Linked DNA regions of Homo sapiens. The protein of the gene in region 4 purifies or fractionates together with the protein of the main gene of each other region. This does not show direct contact. Each region holds a gene or a part of one and is shown on either strand. Other genes may lie near its edges.

What was found. The genes of interacting proteins can lie anywhere in the genome.
Region 1: the proteins of ENTPD4 (region 4) and PCDHAC2 purify together in Homo sapiens (co-immunoprecipitation; one large-scale study listed by IntAct). This does not show direct contact.
Region 2: the proteins of ENTPD4 (region 4) and PCDHGB4 purify together in Homo sapiens (co-immunoprecipitation; one large-scale study listed by IntAct). This does not show direct contact.
Region 3: the proteins of ENTPD4 (region 4) and TRDN purify together in Homo sapiens (co-immunoprecipitation; one large-scale study listed by IntAct). This does not show direct contact.

The regions. Positions count from the first base shown.
Region 1 is NC_000005.10:140,965,046-140,969,343, forward strand, and holds the start of PCDHAC2 (protocadherin alpha-C2 isoform 1 precursor), read left to right. Parts: upstream 1-1,430; 5' UTR 1,431-1,721; coding exon 1,722-4,286; coding exon of another isoform or gene 4,287-4,298. UniProt on the Homo sapiens protein: Potential calcium-dependent cell-adhesion protein. May be involved in the establishment and maintenance of specific neuronal connections in the brain.
Region 2 is NC_000005.10:141,393,906-141,397,765, reverse strand, and holds part of PCDHGB4 (protocadherin gamma-B4 isoform 1 precursor), read right to left. Parts: coding exon of another isoform or gene 2,490-3,860; exon of another isoform or gene 983-2,489; intron 1-982. Other genes in the region: PCDHGA8 (protocadherin gamma-A8 isoform 1 precursor), read right to left, coding at 2,529-3,860. UniProt on the Homo sapiens protein: Potential calcium-dependent cell-adhesion protein. May be involved in the establishment and maintenance of specific neuronal connections in the brain.
Region 3 is NC_000006.12:123,500,883-123,504,742, forward strand, and holds part of TRDN (triadin), read right to left. Parts: intron 3,020-3,860; coding exon 2,837-3,019; coding exon of another isoform or gene 2,769-2,836; exon of another isoform or gene 946-2,768; intron 1-945. UniProt on the Homo sapiens protein: Contributes to the regulation of lumenal Ca2+ release via the sarcoplasmic reticulum calcium release channels RYR1 and RYR2, a key step in triggering skeletal and heart muscle contraction.
Region 4 is NC_000008.11:23,430,891-23,433,743, forward strand, and holds part of ENTPD4 (ectonucleoside triphosphate diphosphohydrolase 4), read right to left. Parts: intron 2,265-2,853; coding exon 2,036-2,264; 3' UTR 1-2,035.

The sequences.
Region 1 (4,298 bases), on a different chromosome or scaffold from region 4:
GGAAGCATGCCAAATGTCAGGTCTCACTCTGACTTTGTTCCAGTCCATAGCTAGAAAATGACCCATAGAGGAAGATCTACAGATGACAGAATACTGGGAGATGAAGAGAAAGGACGTTTTAGTGAGTGCTTTTTTTGCACATGAGGCAATAGATTTCAAATTCCTGTGGAAGAAATGTGAGAACCTGGGAAGAGTGAATATTCAGAACTGAGCAGCAGAGGCAATGACACAGCATGGAAAGATTTCCTCTGATCCTTCTACCTTCTCTTTTACTGAAGTGAATTTGTTGTCTCTGTGTTGCCTCTATAGCAGTACAAGAGGAAACTTGGGGACACAGAAGAACAGAAGTCTAAGGAGTCTTATATTTAAGGAAGATAAGCTGCAGTCATTGAAATTGCTGGTTATTGTAAGATAAATCCCAGACTCCCACATTTTGCTTAATGACAGCAGATTTTTTTTTTTTTTTAACTGCAAAGCATTAATGGAATCCAAATTCCAGCCTGGCTTAGGAGATCAACAGTAACGCTCTTGATTTAATGGTTTTGCAGACTCTTGAAGACATTGTCATCCATTAAAGAAAAAATTTTAAATTACTCTTGAAAGAAAATGTCTTGGGTGATAAATGTAAAAGATTTGAAGCAAGATTAGAAAAAGCTTGAGAGAAGAATCTCTTTAAAAATTTTACCAGATTTTCCCCATTGTCGCCAAAATGGGTCAAATAATAGATTTGCCTACAGCTTCATGGAGACTATTTTTTTAAACAGAGCATTTTAAACATTTAAATATTGGTTATTTGCCAAGGCACACACTGAAAATAAGGGCCACTTGGCCGAGAGCAGAATTGAGTCTTGGATCCCAGGATGCTGGTTTTAGGCTTGCTCCCGGAAAGAGGGCAGCATTTGCCATCCCCCTCCTTTTGCCCTAGGAGTTGAGCACTTTCTGCAGTACTTAAGAGTGTCCAGGGAAGATGTGGGAGTCAGGTGAATAGTTCCCATCGCCAGTAACCCCAGAGCGCCTCCCCCTGCGTTGTTTCCTTTTAATGTTAGATCCGCCGCCTGGGTGCCCATACTTAGCTAAGGCCCCTCAGTTTATTTTCCTGAATTGCGCTTGGAGATCTTTTCCTGGGGAGCTGATAGCCAGACTTCTAGGGGCTTGACTGCTTTTCCCAGACTAATCTCCTTAAAGACCCGTTAAGCAGGGGAGAGACGGTGGAGACTGGATGAACTGGACAGTGGGGGTAGGGAGAAAGGGAGTGGCCGTGTTCCTGCGGTCCGCTGGGATCCGGCAGGTCCAGGGTGAAGGAGATGGGGCTGGAGAGGCTGAGCAGTCCGGGTTCGCTGTCCGCCACTTCGGCGCGGAATCAGAGCAGGACTTGCTGAGCCCTCCTACCGCTCCCTTTCCCCCTCCCCCTCTGTCTTCCCTTCTGTTTCCTTTTCCCTCCCCCTGGAGCTGTAGCGGCAGCAGCAGCAGGAAGCCGAGCCGGGTTGAGCGACTCGGAGGCGAGCGGAGGAGCTGGAATATGGGGAGTCAGCGAGGACGGTGGGGCCAGGAGCCCTTGGGAGGGCCTACGGAGGGAGCGGCCCCAGGCGCTTTCTAGAGCGTGAGCGGTGGGGGAGCAGGCGCAGGGTGGCACGAGCGGAGGCGGGGCCCGGGCGTGGGGCACGGCTGGGGAAGCTGCCGCCTCCGGCCCTGCCCGGCTGCCTCCGCCGCGGCCAGTGGCTATGGAGCAGGCGGGCACCAGACCTGCGGCGACAGAGCATCCACGGCTCCGGCGGCCCATGCCCTGGCTGCTGCTACTGCCTCTCCTGCTGCTGTTGCTGCTGCTGCTACCTGGCCCTGCGGCCTCCCAGCTGCGATACTCTGTGCCAGAGGAGCAGGCACCCGGCGCGCTCGTGGGCAACGTGGCTCGCGCGCTGGGGCTTGAGCTGCGGCGCTTGGGGCCGGGTTGCTTGCGCATCAACCATCTGGGTGCGCCCAGTCCGCGCTACCTGGAGCTGGACCTGACGAGTGGAGCGCTCTTCGTCAACGAGCGCATTGATCGGGAGGCGCTGTGTGAGCAGCGGCCTCGCTGCCTGCTCAGCTTGGAAGTGCTGGCGCACAACCCCGTGGCGGTGAGCGCCGTTGAGGTGGAAATATTGGACATCAACGACAACTCACCGCGTTTCCCGCGGCCCAACTACCAGCTTCAGGTAAGCGAATCGGTGGCGCCTGGAGCGCGCTTTCACATAGAGAGTGCGCAGGACCCCGACGTGGGCGCCAACTCAGTACAGACCTACGAGCTCAGCCCCAGCGAGCACTTCGAGCTGGACCTTAAGCCCCTGCAGGAGAACAGTAAAGTGCTTGAGCTGGTGCTGCGTAAGGGCCTAGACCGGGAGCAGGCAGCCTTGCACCACCTGGTTCTCACAGCCGTGGATGGGGGCATCCCAGCCCGCTCGGGTACGGCACAGATCTCTGTGCGTGTCCTGGACACTAACGACAACTCTCCTGCCTTTGACCAGTCCACTTATCGCGTCCAGCTACGGGAGGACTCACCCCCAGGCACATTGGTGGTGAAGCTGAATGCCTCAGACCCGGATGAGGGCTCCAATGGTGAGCTCAGGTACTCCTTGAGCAGCTACACGTCGGACCGGGAGAGGCAGCTCTTCAGCATAGATGCCAGTACCGGGGAAGTGCGAGTAATTGGGGGGCTGGATTATGAGGAAGCCTCCTCCTACCAGATCTATGTGCAGGCGACTGACCGGGGTCCAGTGCCCATGGCAGGTCACTGCAAGGTGCTGGTGGACATCGTGGACGTGAATGACAATGCCCCAGAGGTGGTGCTCACGGACCTGTATAGCCCAGTGCCTGAGAATGCTACACCCAACACCATTGTGGCCGTTCTCAGTGTCAATGACCAAGACTCAGGCCCCAACCGGAAAGTGAGCCTGGGTCTGGAGGCCACACTGCCTTTCCGACTGAATGGCTTTGGAAACTCCTATACACTGGTGGTGAGCGGCCCACTGGACCGAGAGCGGGTGGCTGTCTACAACATCACGGTGACAGCCACAGATGGGGGAATACCGCAGCTCACATCCCTGCGTACACTGAAGGTTGAGATCTCTGACATCAATGACAATCCACCAAGCTTCCTGGAGGACTCCTATTCCATCTACATACAGGAGAACAATTTGCCAGGTGTGTTGCTCTGTACTGTGCAAGCCACAGACCCAGATGAAAAGGAGAATGCAGAGGTGACCTACTCCCTTCTGGAGAGGGAGATTCAAGGGCTGCCAGTCACCTCCTATGTCTCCATTAACAGTGCCAGTGGCAGCCTTTATGCTGTCAACTCCTTTGACTATGAGAAGTTTCGGGAGTTCTTTGTGACTGTGGAGGCTCAGGACAAGGGGAGCCCACCACTGAGCAGCACTGTGACTGCCAACGTATATGTGGTGGACATGAATGACCATGCCCCTCACATTCTGTACCCTACCTCAACCAACTCGTCAGCAGCCTTCGAGATGGTGCCTCGAACTGCCCCTGCTGGCTACCTGGTCACCAAAGTCATAGCTATGGACTCAGACTCTGGGCAAAATGCTTGGCTTTTTTACCATCTAGCCCAGACTTCTGACCTGGACCTCTTTAAGGTAGAGCTGCACACAGGAGAAATTAGGACTACCAGGAAGATGGGAGATGAGAGTGGTAGCACTTTCAACCTGACCGTGGTGGTCCGAGATAATGGAGAGCCATCACTATCAGCCTCTGTGGCCATTACAGTAGCTGTGGTGGATAGGGTTTCCAAAATCCTCCCTGACACTCAGAGGCATGTTAAGAGCCCTCGGACATACTCTGAAATTACCCTTTATCTAATAATAGCATTAAGCACAGTGTCTTTTATATTTCTTTTGACAATCATCATTTTGAGCATCATCAAGTGCTACCGCTACACTGCGTATGGCACTGCATGCTGTGGAGGCTTCTGTGGAGTAAGGGAAAGGTCCCCTGCAGAACTGTACAAACAAGCCAACAACAATATTGATGCCAGGATACCGCATGGCCTCAAAGTGCAGCCTCACTTCATTGAAGTTCGAGGGAATGGCTCCCTCACCAAGACCTACTGCTACAAGGCCTGTCTGACAGCAGGCTCAGGGAGTGACACTTTCATGTTTTACAATACAGGGGCCCAGACAGGACCAGGGCCTTCGGGAGCCCAAGCAGCAGTGACTGACAGCAGGAATCTCACAGGCCAAAGTGGTCAGAATGCTGGGAACCTGATTATTCTCAAAAATGAGGCTGTTTCTCAAAATGAGGTGAGACAGTGG
Region 2 (3,860 bases), on a different chromosome or scaffold from region 4:
AATAAAAAATTATAACAACTTCTTTAAGGTATCTTTCTCTGTTTTCCAAATTGTTAGAAATATCACGTTGGGTTTTTATACAAACCTGCATACATTGGTCCATTCTTTCACCATTCTGCAAACATACCTTGAACTCTTAGCTAGAACTAAGTATTGCCCTTGTCACTGGCAATATAATAATTAATATGATACAGTTCTTGCTCTCAGAGCCTTCATACTATACTGATTTCAAAAATTCATTTTTTATTAGCTATGGAAACAATTTTATCATTCTTCTGTTCATTTCTATGATTTCCAACTCCCCAATATTTCTAGTGTTTTATATTACACATATTAGGGAAATCTATACTATTTAAAACTATTTTGTAAAGTTGTGGCAATTTTATACCAATCCCCAAACATCTCCTCTTCCTGACTATATTAACATTCTTTATAAAAATAATTTTTCTTTACTCTTCTACTTCAGGAAATATTCATTCAAGTATACTGCCCATATGATGTAGCTAAGAAATGATATACCCTACTACGTTGCTCTTCTTCATATCTCAAAATACTTCTCTTATGTCATATCTTTTACAGTACATAAATTCATTCTTAAGAGTTATTGGGGAAATGCTTATCTATTCTGCAATACAAGGTACAAAGGGATATTCTAGTGGATTGCATTATTATCCTATCTGAAATGACTTTGGAATTGGATAAATGAAGCTCATAAGTTCATTTACATAAATTTGTGGACATTGGTCAACCTTCTTTAGTCCATTTGTCAGATTAATAAAAACAACTAGCCAACATTTTTAGGGAGAGTAAGGATTTTCTTTCCTACCAGGGCAACTTTCATCCGAGTTTTTAAAATTGCAAAGTGCCAATAATATGTTGTCCTCTCAAATGTGCATCCAAATGGTACACAAACTATGAAGTTAACTCCCACTCCACTGAATATGCACCATACAGTAGAACACTACACAATCCTTAGGAAATGTCCTTTTCATTAATAACAAACATTTATTGGGTCATCTACTTCTACCTTACAACAATCAATTCAGGTATTAGCTTTATTCAAATGCTACAAGAAGGTATGCAGGAATACAATAATGGATAGCCTATACCGAGTTTTTACTATTAATATTAGTTTTTTTTTTTTTTGAGACGGAGTCTCACCCTGTTGCCCAGGCTGGAGTGCAGTGACAGGATCGAGGCTCACTGCAACCTCCACCTCCCGGGTTCAAGTGATTCTTCTGCCTCAGCCTCCCGAGTAGCTGGGACCACAGGCGCATGCCACCATGCCTGGCTAATTTTTGTAGTTTTTAGTAGAGACGGGGTTTCACCATGTTTGCCAGGCTGATCTTGAACTCCTGACCTCAGGTGATCCACCCACCTCAGTCTCCCAAAGTGCTGGGATTACAGGCGTGAGCCACCGCACCCGGCCTAATAATAGTTTTTTTAGAGACAGGGTCTAGTTCTGCCACCTAGGCTGGAGTGCAGTGGCATGATCATAGCTCACTGCAGTTTCAAACCCCCGGGGCTCAAGCGGTCCTCCTGCCCCAGCCTCCCAAAGTGCTGGGATTTCAGACATGAGGCACTGTGTCCAGCCAAGACTGAATAACTTTAATTGAATTGATCAGCTTATTTAGAACTTGTGTACCTGAAACATTGGTTCTTAATATCAACATTCTCACCACTTCACATCAATGCACAACCGAAACAGCTAATTGGAATTGTATTGAAATATGTTCTTACATATTTTACAAAAGTCACTTTCAACAGTTTAAAATTACATTTTAATTCAGATCTAATGTTTTTGCTTTTGTTTTTTGTTTGGGGGAGCAATGGACATTCTAGGCTTTAGATTTCATGTCTCCATGGGCATGGAGCCCAGGTGACCACTGACTCACATACTTAATATTTAGTAACCAGTCTCATCTCCCACCAAGATCCATCTTTAAAGTTTGTTCATGTTTTGAAGGATGGTAAGAAGTATTAAAGTTTTGAAGGGCACTGGTACAGAAACAGGGCTCAGAAAAGAGGTTTAAAGTGAAGAAATCTACAAGAGCCTAGTTACAGGTTCAAATGCTAAACATAACCCTAAAAATTCTGAGATATATTTTACTTTTGCTAAGCTAATAACAAGGCTTTAGACTTCTTGATAATTTTCTGAAGTTCTAGTTTGGGATACACACACACACACACACACACACACACACACACACACACACACACACAAACAATAGCAAAATTACCAGTATGGACGGGTAGCTACTTCTTAAGTGAATGAGTGATAATAGGAATAAAATACTGGAAGGCTTAAAATGGTTGAACAATCTTTTCCAAGTCGTTTAAAAGCAAATGAAACAATAACCTATGACTATTAGAGTTCAATTTTATAGTAACACCACCAAAATAAACCCAAAACTCTGTGATACACCTTAAAAATTATTTTCAACTATCTTCACAATGTTTTTCAAAACATAATTTATGCCAAATAAAATTCATCTGGAAATTAAAAGCAAGCAAAGAACTAAACTCACCTGACCATGATCAGCTTCATTCTTATATTCATGAAAATCTACGGATGTTAACAAAGAATCATTTTTCTCACAGCCCTCCTGACTGATGAGCATGTCTGCGTAGTTGGGCTGGGGAAAGATCAGGTGACTCTTCCGCGAGTCGGCGGTGAGGGAGACTTCCTGGGAATAGGTCTGCAGGAAAGCCTGTACCTCCTCAACACCCACAAAATGTGAGGCAGGCACGCCTACCAATCTGCCACCGGAATCCTGGAGCAGGCGTGACTTGTGCCAGCGCCTCAGCCTGAGCCCCAGAAGCACAGCGACAAAGGCGAGGAAGACACAGGAGATGGCAGCCACTGCCACCACGAGATAGAGTGTAAGGCTCGAATCGTTCGGGTCGACCGAAGGCTTCAGACTGCCCAACTCGGTCAGGACTTCGGGGATGCTGTCAGCCACGGCTACGGTGAGCGTGACAGTGGCGGAGAGAGGGGGCTGGCCATGGTCCTGGACGGCCACCACGAGGCTCTGCTTGAGCGCATCTCTGTCCAGCAGGGCTCGCGCCGTGCGCACCTCGCCCGTGTGCAGACCCACCGAGAAGAGTCCCGGCTCGCTGGCCTTGAGCAGGCGGTAGGACAGCCAGGCGTTCTGGCCCGAGTCTCTGTCCACCGCCACCACCTTGGTCACCAGGTAGCCACGCTCTGCGGAGCGGGGCGCCAGCTCCACGCCAGTGGAACCGTCTGTGGGGAGGGCGGGGTACAGGATCTCGGGCGCGTTGTCATTCTGGTCCAGCACGAACAGGCTCAGTGACATGTTGCTGCTGAGGGGCGGGTCCCCGCTGTCGCTGGCTGTTACCAGTAGCTGCAGGTCTCGGATCTGCTCATAGTCGAAAGATTGCAGCGCATACAGGACACCGGTGTCAGAGTTGATGGAGATATACGAGGACAGGGGCGCCCCCTGCAGCGTGTCCTCGGTCACAGAGTAAGTGACCTGGGCATTCTCCTGGCTGTCGGGGTCGTGTGCAGTCAAGGAAAAGATGGAGGCTCCTCTCAGGTTGTTCTCTAGGATATACGCTGAGTAGGAGGCATGAGGGAAAGTAGGAGGGTTGTCGTTAATGTCTGCCACGTGCAGAGCGATTTGAGTTTCAGTGGACAGAGGTGGTGTTCCTAGATCTGAGGCCATCACTGTGATATTGTAGATAGAGACATTTTCTCGGTCCAAATATTTCCTTGTCACTAATCTATAATAATTACCTATTGACTTTTCTAATTTAAAAGGTAAATTATCACGTGTGTAACAGACAACTTGACCATTCTTTCCAGAGTCTTGGTCATGCACACTCAAGAAGGCAATTAC
Region 3 (3,860 bases), on a different chromosome or scaffold from region 4:
TTAAAAGAAAGAATGAGTGAAGGAGCAAAGTGTGTGGCAGCTGGAAAATTCGTTTCTCCTTCCCCACAGACCTCCTAGAGGTCATCAGAAAACTAGGGAGCAATGTCTGACTATGCCAACTCTTCCTACTCTACAAACAGATTTAGATGGGTTCATAAAAACTAGATTATTTGATGGGTGTGTGTGTGTGTCTGTGTGTGTGTGTGTGTTTATGGTAGGTGTGTATATACATATGCATCTTATCCCTAATGCTTTAAGCAGAAAAAGAGATGTATTATTTCCATATACAATATTGAGAGTAACTACATTGAATATATTCATATGTATACTATGTAATTAAATAATTACTAATAAATATGTGTCCCATGTGAAAATCTGTTTCCAAGTGAGTAAAGGACCTATGAGCCTTATTTCTTTAAAAAGAAGTATTTAGAAATCTATATGAAAAGAATGCCTCAAACATATTAGGTCTAACTTAACTATGTGAATGAGTATTCTCTTGCCCAAAAAGCTAACTCAACAGTTAGCTTAGTTGAGCTAACTCAACTAAGTCATCATATAAAATTTTCAAAACCAAAGCCTCAGAAATTAAAAAAAACTATATCTTTATCTTGCTTAGCTAAAATCATAATGTAATTAGTTTTCTTTAATTTAAAAATGCTCTTAATTAAATCTTTGCTTAGTAACAAAAAATGAAAAATAAAATGACATATTTATATGTCTGATCTGCCATTAGAGGTTAAGTTTTGAATACTTACCTAATGATACATTTATATAATTGATGGCAATTGTTCTCAATACTGAGACTTGCTTTAGCAATTGCAATTGTTTAGCTGATAAAATCACATTTGTGCTTTTGTTTTAAACTCTAAATGATATTTGAATGTCCTTTTAATAGATAAATAACTCTTTGTGTAGAAATAAAAATAGTAGACTGAAAAGGGATATGGTAATATAATGCTGTCTTTAATAAATCTGATTACTGATAGAAATGAAATACAATATTTGTGGCCTGGAAAATAAACATTATTTTAAAGTGTTCCGGTGATGAGTTTTTATCAATAAAATGTGGCTCCCAAATCCCCAAAGATATGAAAAATTAACATCAAAAAATACATTCACATTCCTAGTTGTTAGATAAGTATTTTGACATTTCCAAATATAACTGGCATCAATTTTTACACTCTGTATTTATGGTTAAAAATTAGAATGTACTTTGTAGGTTTTCACTGATTTCATGTGATTATTTTTCTTTTTGAACAGCAATCTAAAGTGTAAAGGATTTCAGGATCTAAGTAATCATACCAGTGAATCCAAAGATTATTTCTGCTGTTTTTTTACCACAGTAAAATATTATATTCAACGTATTTTCTCTTTACTTACTTCATCCTTTTTGTCTACCAAAATATTTCATTAATGACATAATTTTGATGGAAGTAATAATTAACTTTTAAATTTTTTTCATGGTGATATAATCACCTTGAAAATTGGAAAAAGTTTTAGAGCTCCTAAGTTTTAATATGACTTATATCTTAAAATAATAAATTAAAATTATCTAAATTTAAAGGTTTGTAGATCACTAAAAAAAGAAAAAATCTTTCCTTTTTAAAATATATATTTTTAAAATATGTATCTTTTGTCATATAAATCAGAGTTGACAAATACTACATGTGAATCAAAGTTTACAAATGCAAATTCAAGAGAAAAAAGATGAAAATACAGTACGAGTGCATTGCAAATTTCATTTCTTGTGCCTTATGAGGAAAAATTAATTTCAGTTTCATCCTCCAAATAGCCTGCTCTGTAATAAAATTGTAAGATTTCTTAAACTAAAATCTAATAGAAACCAATTCTTTGATACAGTCCTTAGATAACATTAGTCAAAAGTGCTACAAAGTAAAGAAAAATTTGGTTTTGCAATGTCTCCAAGAAACACCAATTACAGGAATAGTCTCTACATGTTAGATCCCCGTATTCTGTAAAGGAGTCTCAGGATTATACAGCAAACTGGAGTCAGGAATGGACTTAGGAAAAGAAACATTCAATAAGGGCCAGAGATGTGGTACGATAAGACCCTTAGTTGCCCTCCTAAACCTTCAGCTCTGTATATTCACATAGCAACCTTCCATAAAATAAAAATTCAGGTTTATATGCCACCTCCATTGAAGTGATATATTTTTGCAAAGTGGGGATGTAAGTTTGACATCACTCTTGCTGAAGAATGGCGAAATATGTCACATTCAGAGCTTTCTAAAGTTAGAAATTTAGTCAATGGAAACTGAAAAAGAAACTTGAGAACTGTCTTCTCTATAACATCTTGCCTATTAAATAAATTTAATAATTGGATGTATATTCTAAATGATGTGCTCTTGCCAATGCAACAGTAATGTATGGATAGTTTTTATGATATTTACTCTATATGATTCCAACATGTACCCCTTCACAAACTCCTTAGGAATTGCTGTCATTTTGGGGGACCACTTTCCTCCAAAGAGTATGACACATACAATCTTTATTCCACCTCTTAATAGACATTCCATATCTCAAAAATTCAACATTTATCCCCAATCTTTATATGATTTCGGATGCTACCTCCAAACCCCTTTTAAAAATACTTCAAAATGCCCCTTTAGATCTGTGAACACATTTTAGTATTTTTATAAATAAATATTAATTCCCAATTTACTGTATTTCTTTTCTGATATATTTACTTTAATGTCTTTTACCCCCATTTGAAGTCTGATTTTGGTCTTTTTCAACTTTTAATTTCACTGCATGTGCTTCTTGCCCAATATTCTCTTAGAACCTCCGGCAGCCTCCTGCTCTGAATGTTTACCTTTCTGTTCATGCTTTGACACAGCTGCTTTCTCTTTGTCCTCCTTTTCTTTGGGTTTTGATGGTGTTTTCTGTACTTCTTTTACTTTTGCAGCTGTTTGCTTCACTTTCTCCTGTTTTCCACCTTTCACTTCCTTTTTAGTCTTTTCTTCACTCTTTTCTGCAGTCTTAGCTTTCTTCTGTTCTGTATAAAGTTAAAAGATGTTGAAATACTTTTGTTTATTTACAAACATAATGTTTCATCTGTACTATGTCATTAAGGAAAATTGGAAAAGAAAGAGGGAAGAAAGGTAAGTCACAAGTGTTTATGTTAAGAACAGTATTTTTCAGGAAAACAATGAAAAATACTGTTCTTAACATAAACACTTGTGACTTACCAGAGTTTTATACAGTTTATGAAGTGCTATATTAGATAGACTACTAAAAGTGTTATGGCTTTTAATTTGTACATGAAAACACTATTTTTTAAGGCAATAGTAACTTAGCATGTCAACAAGGAGGCATTTGTAGCATGCAGGGGATGGATGTACAGGAATTTCTGTGAAAGACAATTTCCATACCAAACAGCCCAGTGAAGTAGTCTCCTTTTATAAGCACATGATCATTTTGCTTGATAACTGAAAGATCTTAAGGGTCATTCAAGAAACTGAAATGCCAACAAAGTCTTTTTTAAAGACAACAATTAGTAATGCAAGTGTAAAATTATCGCATTGGTGTTGACTAACAGAAATAAAACAATGAAATCCATTAGAAGATAACTGAAAGACCTATAGTCTAATGATTTGGCCTTAGAAAAACTGAAAGTGAAGAAATTCAGATATTGGCTCCTGTTTATCTTAAGTCAGCGATAATTCTACTAGTTTTTAAAGCCCTTAAACATATCATGGGAAATTCAAAGGGCTATAAATAAAAATATATATGAATAGATATATAAATTAGAACATATATATATTACACACATATATTCTTAATTTGATATTATCCGTATTTTGGAAGAGGGAACTGTGATGCAAATAACTAGTCTG
Region 4 (2,853 bases):
CCAACTTATTAGGTAGCCAGAAGCTCACCCCTTTCTTAACAACTTTGACCACGAAGCGCAAATACGATGCAGGTAAATCCAGAGGCAGAGCCTGGGTCCCCAGGCTGCTGGTAACACGCTTTGAAATCCAGGTGAGGGAGCCATGCCCCCACAGCTCTTGCCTCAAGGATCAGATGCATTTTACCTTCCAGAGACGCAGGTTAAGCTGCACCTGAGGCAGTTTGAGCCACAACTGGGACAGAATTCCCTTGGTCTTCTCTTCTGATCCCTCAGCAGAACTGCCCCTAATGCTCAGTTCATGGCAATACAGGCCTTTTCTCTCCTGTTTCTCCAAACTCTCCCAGCCTCTGCCCAGTACCTAGTTCCAAAGCCACTTTTATAATATCCTCAGTTATCTGTTATAGCAACAACCCCACTTCTGGGTACTAATCTGCTACCAACTACAGGAATTTAACTGTTCTGGAGTTAGGGAACAGCACACACAGACACTCGCACAAAACAAACTCCACCTAAAAAAACTGTACGAGAATTCCCCAAACTTCTCAACTAAATAAATAGGTGAAAAAACACCAATCTCACATATGCCAATCCAATTGTCCTTTTTAGATTTTGGCTTAAATTGTCGAATTTTTTCCTTCAAAATGTGAATTTATTTCCTGTATTGGATGCAGACTCTTCCCTTCTGGATTTACAGTGGTGCTGCCAGCAACAGCCTCAGTCAATGCGGTTAGGAAGAGGACTCGGCAGGCTGTGCATGGGGTCTCCCAGTACGATTAAAAGCTGAGATGACTTTTAATTAAGGGGGGTGGGGGAAACACCAATTGGAAGCTGGAAGAAACTGAGGCACGATTAAGCAGAAACACTGAGGAATACTGAGCAAGAAGTGGGCATGTGCTCTAGTTCCAATAAAACCGAAACTGGTGAAACTAGGAATTTCCAATTCTTTCAAAACCACAGTGTTCTAATGCCACTGAAATATGGAATAAGGAGCGTAATTACCTGCGGTCAGGAAAAGATAACAGTAACGAGGATTTTTCTAAATAAAATGTACCAGTAAATTCTGAAGTGTGTGTTTTTAAAGAACCAGCATTGCCTCCCCTCACGCTGGTTTCTTGGGATTTTTCACACACTCGCACAAAGCTGTAGTCGATAGTTCACTATCACTTTTATAAATGGTTATCTCCTGGTGCCCATGTTTCTCTGTTTTGGATATAAATGGTTTAAAAAATTTAAATTTGCAAAGAAAACATATACAGTAACAGACCTGAACAATAAATAAAAAAAAAAATCACCCTCTTCAGGTTAGAGCTTTCAAGATAGAGAAAAAAGAGGATTATCATTTCAGGCAGTAAGTTTTTTGGTTCTATGAAAGCATCACTATTCAGTCCCCTCTCCACTGACAGAATGCATCTTTCCACCTCCCTCCAGTATCAAAGTGCATGTGTTTAAATTTAACATTCCTTAGAGAAACCCCAGAAATCTCATTTATTTTTGGCAGATATCCTGTGCAGCAAAAATCAAGTGAATTTCCCTCTTCCCCACTCCTCAATTTAATGCTGTACTCAAAATGGCTAAACGCAATACTTCTAGACAGCAGGGCTTATAAACAATGCATTTTTTTTTTTTGAGACGGAGTCTCACTCTGTCGCCCAGGCTGGAGTGCAGTGGTGTGATCTCGGCTCACTGCAAGCTCTGCCTCCCAGGTTCATGCCATTCTCCTGCCTCAGCCTCCTGAGTAGCTGGGACTACGGGCGCCCGCCACCACACCCAGCTAATTTTTTGTATTTTTAGTAGAGACGGGGTTTCACCGTGTTAGCCAGGATGGTCTCGATCTCCTGACCTCATGATCCGCCCGCCTCGGCCTCCCAAAGTGCTGGGATTACAGGCGTGAGCCACCGCGCTCGGCCTGCATTTTGTTTTTGTTTGGAGGAACAAAAAAGGGAAAGAAAAAACAAAACCACAGGAAAATAAAGAGGAGAAACCCTGAGGCAAAAATGGCTTTTCCTTTTGAGTCTTCGTGGAGCTGTGAGCTGGATCACAAGGTCCCCGGGGCATTCTGGGCGGGAAGGCCCTCCTCCATCCAGAGGGCGGCGGCCGAGCTGCTCCGGGGAGTGCGCCTGTGGATGCGCCGCAGCCGCAGCAGGTACAGCAGGATGGCCAGCAGCACCACCAGGAAGCAGCCAGAGAACAGGTAGTGGTTGTAGACAAAGGAAACGCCCCGCCAGTGGGTGTGACTGGCTCGGAAGGCCTCCTGCTGGATGTCTCTGCCCATGTGAACACCAAACAACAAACAGGACAGTAAGCAAGGAAAGGGGTGGAAAGGGTGCACAGGGGGACGGCGGGACCCAGGCCCCAGAGCTGCACTTTAGGAACTGCAACCCTACCTCTGAAATGGAGAACGGAACAGCCCAATGCAGGGGGCTTCTAAGTATCAGTGAGATAACATGTGAAAGTATACTCTGAAGTCGGTCATTATAATTTGGGCAACCAAAATCAGAGGAATTTAGAAGAGCCGTGAAGGTTTCGCTGATACAAAGAAGTCAACATGTAAACAAACTGCATGCTTGTGATCAGTAACACCCATGACTCACCATTTTTACAGTTAACCCAGTTAAAAGGGTTGCTGAGAAATGCTCAATTAAATGGAGGGGGTGGGGGGAAGAGCAAATGTCTCATCTATCAGGTAACTCAGGTTCTTAGCACAGGTCAACTGACAGCAGATCTGCAAACGTGAATGGGGAAAAACGCACATCTTTGTTCTACCCAAGCGCTGACTGAGATGTAGCATTTCTTTGACCATGAATGCAGACAACAAACTATCATTAGCGTTGGCAGCACCTGCAACTTTGTTAC